Linked DNA regions of Homo sapiens: region 2 is reported to be linked to region 1. Evidence: microRNA targets listed by miRTarBase, many of them from high-throughput screens and not tested one by one. Region 1 holds a microRNA gene; the other region holds the end of a gene's coding sequence.
The links. Region 1 holds the annotated microRNA hsa-miR-520a-5p (CUCCAGAGGGAAGUACUUUCU, at 1,457-1,477, opposite strand). A microRNA usually pairs through its seed, bases 2 to 8, with sites in the 3' UTR of a target mRNA and lowers its output. Matches are read on the target gene's strand: a 7mer-m8 pairs with bases 2 to 8, a 7mer-A1 pairs with bases 2 to 7 and ends in A, and an 8mer does both.

Region 1 (4,397 bases):
CTACATTTATCACTGTGACTGAGATTCATCTTGTCTACAACAGTTTCTTATATTAGCCACAGCTAATATAAGACACATTTGACATCTTAGCAAGTAACTGGCATTTAGATGCAAGGTTTAAGCCCATTGGAATGGTACCTTGGAATCGTTACCCAAAGAAAATAGGATAAACATGGCAGCTACAGTCAAAGAACTCACTGGGGTTGGCATTAGTGGGTGAGGGTTGAATCAACTACACCCTTCCTGCAGAGAAAGCAGGTCTATTCCGAGAAATGATGGCAAGATGTTGGGGAAAAACAAATTTCAGTGTTACGGACAAGCAGATTACACTAAAAAGACACGAGTGAACAGGAACAAAAAGAAATTGTATCAATACGGACACCCACTGGGGATTACAGAATAGACTGGATGGACTTGGAGGATTACCCACTCTCTTAATGAAGGAACCATGGTTTGGATTGATTATACTAAATTGATGGGAGGCCATTGTATGACATGACCAACCCAAATGAAATCTGTGGGACCAGGTGCTATGTAATCTGTTTTTAAAGAAATGGGATCTTGCTATGTTGGCCCAGGCTGGAGTGCAGTGGCTATTCAAAGGTGGGATCTGTGCACGGTATAGCCTTAAAATCAAAGCACCCTCCCGCCCCGGCCCCTGCAGTAACTGGGACTGTGTGCCCCATGATGCCTGGCCAAGTCAACTATCTTTGAAATGGGTCATCAGGACAAGGTGGCTCACACCTGTAGGATCGCTTGAGCTCAGGAGTTGAGACCGTCCTGAGCAACAGAGACCCCATCTCTACCAAAAATTAAAAGCTGAACCAAGTGTTGTGTCACGCCCCATGTAATCCCAACTACTTGGGAGGCTGACTCAGGAAGACCACTTGAGGCCGGACACAGTGGCTCACGCCTGTAATACCAGCACTTTGGGAAGCCAGGGAGGCAAATCACTTGAAGTCAGGAGTTGAGAACAGCCCAGCAAACATGGTGTAACCCCATCTCTGCTAAAAATACAAAAATTAGCATGACATGGTGGTGGGCGCCTGTAATCCCAGCTACATGGGAGGCTGAGGTGGCAGAACTGCTGGAACCTGGGAGATGGAGGTTGCAGTGAGTGGAGATTGTCCTACTGCACTCCAGCCTGGGTCACAGAGCCAGATTCCATCTCTAAATGAATGAATGAATAAATAAATAAATAAATAAATAAATAAATAAATAAATAAATAGAGGGTCTCTTGGGCCCAGGAGAGCTAGGTTGGAACTGCCACTGCACTCCAGCCTGGGCAACAGAGACCCTGTCTTGGAGAAAAACAAAATCAGAACCCCAACATCATCCGAGTCTGATGATGAGCGTGCTCTGCAAATGTATTACCAAGATCAGCATCAACTTCAACGCTGCTTTACTCAAACCGAAACAGTCCAAAGGGAAGCACTTTCTTTTCTCTCAGACAACAGAAAGTACTTCCCTCTGGAGGGTCACAGCCTGAGATCTTCTTGCTCCAGCACTCTGGGTTTATTGTTGGAATTTTCCTTGACCAGGTTTAAATGGACACAAAAATAAAGATGCATTTTTCCTGGCCCTGTTTGCATGTTTTCTGGAATCCAGAATATAAACCCCCTAAAAGGACCATCTCCAGTTCCTTCTTTCAAAGGCTCAGCAGGTTAGCCTTGTTCATCAAGGGGCAATCCTCCTGAGTTTTGCCCCCAAAGAGAAAAAGCAATGCCTACTACTCATACCTTATCTTTAACCAAGAGAATCGAACTGAATTTCTAGAGAACAGCAATGGATTTTGAGCCAAGTGTTCACTTGAGTTCCAGTATAGGCACATGTAGTACCCATGGGGGCATCCAAAATGGAATCTAAGATGTTGAAGAATGTACATTGTCGCACACACAAACATCCTCCAGGAGAGACCACAGGCTACGCTGTAAAAGCTCCTCAATAAAAAAATACACAAGTACCTGTTGGGTGCGGTGGCTCACATCTCTAACCCCAGCACTTCAGGACGCCGAAGTGAGAGGATCACTTGAGCTCAAGAGTTCCAGACAAGCCTGGGCAACATGGTGAAGCTTCATCTGTACAAAAAATACAAAAGTGAGCCAGGTGTGGTGGTGCATACCTGTAGACACTAATTCAGGAGGCTGCGGTGGCAGGTGGAGGTTGCAGTGAGCCAACATTGCACCACTGCACTCCAGCCTCGGTGATATAGTCAGGCTGTGTCTTGTAAAAACTAGAAACACATACACACACACACACACACACACACACACACACAAAGACACACACTCAAAGTGATAGTCTCCTGCCTCACCCTCCGGAGTAGCTGAGACTACAGGCGTGCGCCACCAGCCCTGGCTAATTTTTTGTATTTTTAGCAGAGACATGGTTTCACCATGTTGGCCAGTCTGGTCTCGCCCTCCTGATCTCAGGTTATCCACCCGCCTCGGCCTCCCAAACTGCTGGGATTACAGGCGTGATCCACCGCACCTGGCCATACATCATATATTTTTGAGACCCTGTCTCAAAAGAAAGAAAGTTCCATATACTGTATGCTCACAGAAAGAATAATTCCTACACATAAGTCCTTGCTTTGGCAGCTCACACCCCCGTCTCTAAAATACAAAACCTAAATCAAGTGTGCGTTGATAACGTGGTCATACACCCTGTATTTCAGCTTCATTTACCCAATAAAAACTCAAAGCCCATGCACTCCACCTCTGTGCTCTTGCGAAGCAATGCACATCCCATCTGCAAGGGACACTGAGGTTCCCTTCAACTCTACCTCAAGTCAAGTCAAGGGAGGTTCTGTAAACCAGTGCAGGCATAACTTCCACGGAGTGAAAGGTGTTGAGGGCTGGACGAACAGGCATCACTCACTATGGCAACAAGAGCGGATGCGCATCCCACCTGTTACTAGGGAGGCCCTTCTAGGGTCCTCAAGGTTTTTGTGAAAGTATCTGTGGTTTTGTCCCATGTGACATTTATCACTGCAACTGAGATTCATCTTGTCTATAATAGCTTGTTTCTCATATTAGCCACAGCCAACATTTCACAGCTTACCAAGAAATTTGCATTTAAATGTGAGGTTTTGCAGGTTGGAATGGTACACTGGAAAAATTACCTGCAGAAAACAGGATAAACAGTGCAGCTGCAGTCACAGCACTCACTACGGTTGGCATGAGTGGGTGAGGGTTGAATCAACTACACCCTTCCTGCAGAAAAAGGTCTATTCCGAGAAATAAGTGGAAGCTGTTAAGCAAGAAAAATTTTCGATGTCAGGGACGAGCAGATTAAATTAAAAAGACAGGAATGGGCCGGGCACGGTGGCTTATATCTATAATCCCCAGCACTGTGGGAGGCCAAGGAGGCAGATCACTTGAGGTCAGGAGTTGAGACCAGCCCCGCAAACATGGTGAAACCCCGTCTGTGCCAAAAGTACAAAAACTGGCAGGTCATAGTGGTGAGCATTTGTAATCCCAGCTACTAGTGACACGGAGGTGGGAGAATTTCTGGAACCTGGGAGGCAGAGGATGCAATGAGTGGAGATCATCCCACTCTACTCCAGCCTGGGTGACAGAGCCAGGCTCCATCTCAAAAATGAATACATAAATAAATAAAAAGAGGATCACTTGAGCCCAAGAGAGCTAGGTTGGAAGTGCCACCGCACTCCAGCCTGGGCAACGGAGACCCTGTCTTAGAAAAACACAAAACCAAAACATAACCCCGCTATCATCCAAGTCTGATGATAAGCATGCTCTGCAAATGTATTACCAAGATCAGCATCAACTTCAACACTGCTTTTCTCAAACCGTAACCCTCAAAAGGGAAGCGCTTTCTCTTCTTTCTGACAACAGAAAGCGCTTTCCTTTGTAGACTCATAGCTTGAGATCTTCTTGCTCCAGCACTCTGGGTTTCGTGTTGGAATTTTCTTTGACCAGGTTTAAATGGACAGAAAAATAAAGATGCATTTAGTGGCCCTGTTTGCATGTTTTCTGGAATCCAGAATAAAACGCCTGAAAAGGACCATCTCCAGTTCCTTGCTTCAAAGGCTCAGCAGGTTAGCCTTGTTCATCAAGGGACAATCCTCCCGAGTTTTGTTCTCAAACAGAAAAAGCAATGCCTACTAGACATACCTTATACTTAACCAAGAGAATTGGACTGGATTTCCAGAGAACAGCAAATGGATTCTGAGCCAAGTGTTCATTTGAGTTCCAGTGCGGAGACACACAGTCCCATTGGAAACATCCAAAATGTGATCTAAGATGTTGAACTATATACATTGTCGCACACACAAACATCCTCCAGGATAGACCACAGGCTAGGTGGTAAAAGCTCCTCAATAAAATTTGAACAGGAATACACAAGTACCAGTTGGGTGTGGTGGCTCATACCT
Region 2 (4,397 bases), not on the chromosome of region 1:
TAAACCCCCACCAATTGCATTAATTGCCAGTAGTTGTAAGGAGGAGTCAGCATCTAGTGTTACTCCCTCTTCTTCCTCTACCTCTTCTTCTTTCCAGGTACTGGCTAATGGAGCTACTGCCGCCTCTAAACCCCTCCAGCCACTAGGCTGTGTCCCACAGTCAGTGTCACCCAGTGAACAGGCATTACCCCCACATCTGGAACCAGCCTGGCCCCAAGGGCTACGGCATAACTCAGTACCAGGTAGAGTTGGCCCCACAGAGTACCTTTCCCCAGATATGCAACGCCAGCGAAAGACCAAGCGCAAAACCAAAGAGCAGCTGGCTATCCTTAAATCCTTTTTTTTACAGTGCCAGTGGGCACGGCGTGAGGATTACCAAAAGTTAGAACAGATCACTGGTTTACCTCGGCCTGAGATCATTCAGTGGTTTGGTGACACACGCTATGCCTTGAAGCATGGGCAACTAAAGTGGTTTCGGGACAACGCAGTACCTGGTGCCCCTAGTTTCCAAGACCCAGCAATTCCTACACCACCACCATCAACCCGCTCCTTGAACGAAAGGGCTGAGACACCACCTCTGCCGATCCCTCCACCCCCACCGGATATACAACCCTTGGAGAGGTACTGGGCAGCCCACCAACAGCTACGGGAAACTGATATCCCTCAATTGAGTCAGGCATCAAGGCTTAGCACCCAGCAGGTGCTGGATTGGTTTGACTCTCGATTACCTCAGCCAGCTGAGGTGGTAGTTTGTCTAGATGAAGAAGAGGAAGAGGAGGAGGAAGAACTGCCAGAAGATGATGAGGAAGAGGAGGAGGAGGAGGAGGAAGATGATGATGATGATGATGATGATGTGATCATACAAGACTGAGTGGGGAGCTGGGGGAGGGGAGGTCTGTTACTGAAAGATGAACCAACTTAGTAACTGTTTAAACAAAGAAACCACATTTTTAAAATTACCTTGTGGCAGAGAACTAAAAAGCTTTGTGTTCTTCAGGGTGGGTGGCAGGGGGATATAGTGAGGGTGGACCAGGGAGAATGACCATAGGGCACTAAGTAAGGCTGGGATTGGATCAGCAGAAATCCAACCCTCTAACCTTAGGGTAGGGAGTGCTAAGGATCTGGGGAAACCATGGGCTGGGAAGCTGCTCTTGCTCTCCTCGTGTCTGCTGTTTTTTTCCCTTGGTGTACTATACAGAGGCCAGATGTTGGCACCACCTCTCCAGGAGGATTGGAAAGGAGGAGTAAAGGATTCTGATTTGATTGATGATTCCAGTGCATCCCCAATCCCACCATCTTACCTGGAATATAAGGCTGCCTTGTACCCCTTTTCTGAGCACAAGTCTGTGCGTAATGCAACTGACTCTCTTACTTTTTTCTTAGTAACTGATCATTTCCTAGACAACCAAGATTCTCAATAAGTCCCAGTCTCATCACAAATATTAATATTTCCTTTTCCTCATACCAACTTGACTATGTTTCACCCGCTTCATGACTAAATCACAGGTGGCAGAATTTTTCAGTTCTTTTTTTTTTTTTTGAGGTGGAGTCTTGCTCTGTCGCCCAGGCTGTAGTGCAATGGCGCAATCTCAGCTCACTGCAAGCTCCGCCTCCCAGGTTCATGCCATTCTCCTGCCTCAGCCTCCCGAGTAGCTGGGACTACAGGCACCTGCCACCACACCCGGCTACTTTTTTATATTTTTAGTAGAGACGGGTTTCATCATGTTAGCCAGGATGGTCTTGATCTCCTGACCTCATGATCCGCCCACCTTGGCCTCCCAAAGTGCTGGGATTATAGGCATGAGCCACCGTGCCCGGCTATTTTCAGTTCTTATGCTGTGACCACTTTGCCTTGTAGCTTTTTCTATCTTTCCAAAATCCTCACTCTGTTCATTGTTTGTCTCAGGGAAAATCTTCCCCCACCGAGCTTGTAAAAAACTTTAATAATTGGGTGGAGAATAATTTAGAATGGATATTTATTGGAGGTGGTAATTAGGGAAGATGTCCTTTTAAACAGTAGAATTGTGTTACAAAGGGGTGAAAGAGAGGGAATAGTTTCTCCTTGTTGAAGGGCAGTGAAGGTAGGTTTCAGGTTTGGTTTTACAAACCTGTTAACTACCTCCTGTCCAGCTTGACAGAGACTAATTTTTCATCTTTTTGCTGTCAATTTGTTTCCAGAAAAGAGACTTTTCCCTCTCTTGATAGGATCTGTCTTAGGGACAGAGGGACCATCGTCTTTAAGTGAATTAATTATTGATGTTTTAGAATGGTTTTCATCAGTTGGGATCAGCTATATGGCAAATAGGTATCATCAATGAGTTAACCATCTAAAAATAAAAGAGTGGAAGCCCTAAAATGCTAGAATAATAATAAAAAGGCCAAAAATAAAATTGTTTCTCTCTCAACCACTTTGCCACTCCTATGGTTTAGGGATTAATGGAACCAAATCCATTAACATTCTAACTCAGCATACTTTTAACTTATTGTTTGGAGGGGCAGGACTTATTGAGGTAAATTAAAAGAACAAAAACTGTAAAAAGGAAGTAGTTCAGCATCTATCGCCAGCCAGGTTGTTTCTCAGCCATCAAATGATAATGACTAAAATTTCTGAGGCTTCAGGAGTAACAGAGATACAACAGTCTTGGAGGTAACTCCATTTGCTACAGGACAGGCCCTTGCCTAAAAGAGAAGGTATCTAGAAATGCCTTTAAAATAAATTCAGAGTACCAGAAAGGGTATGGGGATCCTAGTTCAGATACAAGATCATTCCCAAGACCTAATTTATTTCTGGCAGATGCCTGCTATTTTCTGTTTTTCCAGTATTTTTGCTTAAGGCCAGCTTGTGAGTGGCTAACCTATTTAATTCGTCATTTCTGCCTTTTAAAACCCAAAGTAGAATACATGTTTGATCTCAGTGATAGTGTTGTTCGCCCATTCCACCATTCTAGAGCTTGTAAAAGTGATAGAATTGTAGCAATAAAAGGGCATCGTCTTTATTTTACTATCTATATACTAAGCTGAAAATCAGTGTCTCCAACAGTTGTTTTCAATAGAAAGGAAAATTAACATTTAATAGTAACTAAGCATAGAGGAAATAATAGACAAATAAAAAAGTATAATAAGGAAAAGAACAGAGATATTGCTCGTTAACATTGGCAATGGGACAGTATATCCAAAGCTAAAAATGAAATCCAGAAATGAAACAGTGATGAGTATATGATCCATCACAATCCCCATTCCCAACTCCCAACCAAGCATGATGCCAAGAATTATTTTTTTGACCTTTGTTCCAAATTGTAGGAAATGAGGGGAGCTACCAGTGTCTTCTGGAAGAGATATAAACATCTTCCTGAAGCACTAGCCTTTTGTAAGACCTGACCACTGTCCTGGGAGGTGATAAGGGTGAATAGGGTAAAGATGGGGGGAGCATAAGGTACAGAGTGAAACTAGGAAACAATGCAGGGATACATTTTCCAGGGCCATCACCCCTAATGCGTACTGGAAGCTACAGTCCATCCTTCAGCAGCATGTATAGATCAGATCTTGAAGATGATCTATCTAGAAGTGGTCCATGCTTCTCTCCCACTGGGTAATCCCATATGCCTCCGTTGTTGGTAGAGAGTCTGCAGCAGAGGACAAGAAGGTAGATGTGGGTGTTTATAACAGCAAAAAGGGCAAGCAAGTCTCTCTGACCTGTTGTATGAAGCTTATCGAGACAGACACCACTGCTTTTGCTTCCCCATAGTTTTCTTCATTGCATGATAACTAACTTTTCCAAACTAGGATTTGCTACATCTAGTGTGACAATCTCTGGAACATTTCAGTAGCTTATGGTGATAATAATAAGGATGAATATTTGAAAATTAAACTATTTTGGAAAATCTGGGACATATGACTACCACACCCAGAGATGACTACCAGGGAGGCAGAGTTCTTAGGCCTCTGAGGAGGTGGCATTTCCTTCAATAACTTTAAAATTTTTTCACATTTTCGGTTGTTTGTTTGTTTGTTTGTTTGTTGTTTTTTTGAGATGGAGTCTCGCTCTGTCACCCAGGCTGGAGTGCAGTGGTGCATCTCCGCTTACTGCAAGCTCCGCCTCCCGGGTTCACGCCATTCTCCTGCCTCAGCCTCCCACGTAGCTGGGACTACAGGCGCCCGCCACCATGCCCGGCTAATTTTTTGTACTTTTTTTAGTATAGACGGGGTTTCACCATGTTAGCCAGGATGGTCTCGATCTCCTGACCTCATAATCCGCCCGCCTCGGCCTCCCAAAGTGCTGGGATTACAGGCATGAGCCACCACGCCTGGCCCACATTTTCAAAAAATACATAGAATAGTATAATGAACTCATGTGCCCATTGTCCATCTTTAACAAATAATTAATGGCCAATCTTTTA

Region 2: miRTarBase lists HOMEZ as a target of hsa-miR-520a-5p. Seed matches in the 3' UTR shown: 7mer-A1 at 3,326-3,332 and 8mer at 3,809-3,816.

Annotation. Positions count from the first base shown.
Region 1 is chr19:53,687,975-53,692,371 of GRCh38, reverse strand. MIR520A (microRNA 520a) reads right to left here and starts at 1,491; the gene lies at 1,407-1,491. It overlaps MIR1283-1 (microRNA 1283-1), which reads right to left and starts at 3,891; the gene lies at 3,805-3,891. All of the region lies in intron 2 of LOC107985342 (a long non-coding RNA gene), which reads right to left.
Region 2 is chr14:23,272,049-23,276,445 of GRCh38, reverse strand. It overlaps HOMEZ (homeobox and leucine zipper encoding), which reads left to right. Exons shown (of 2, transcript NM_020834.3): 2 at 1-4,024. The coding sequence ends at 871. It overlaps RNF212B (ring finger protein 212B), which reads right to left. Exons shown (of 15, transcript NM_001282322.3): 15 at 2,969-3,623. The coding sequence ends at 3,555. Among named protein-coding and RNA genes, the nearest start is that of HOMEZ, 12 kb to the left of the region's middle.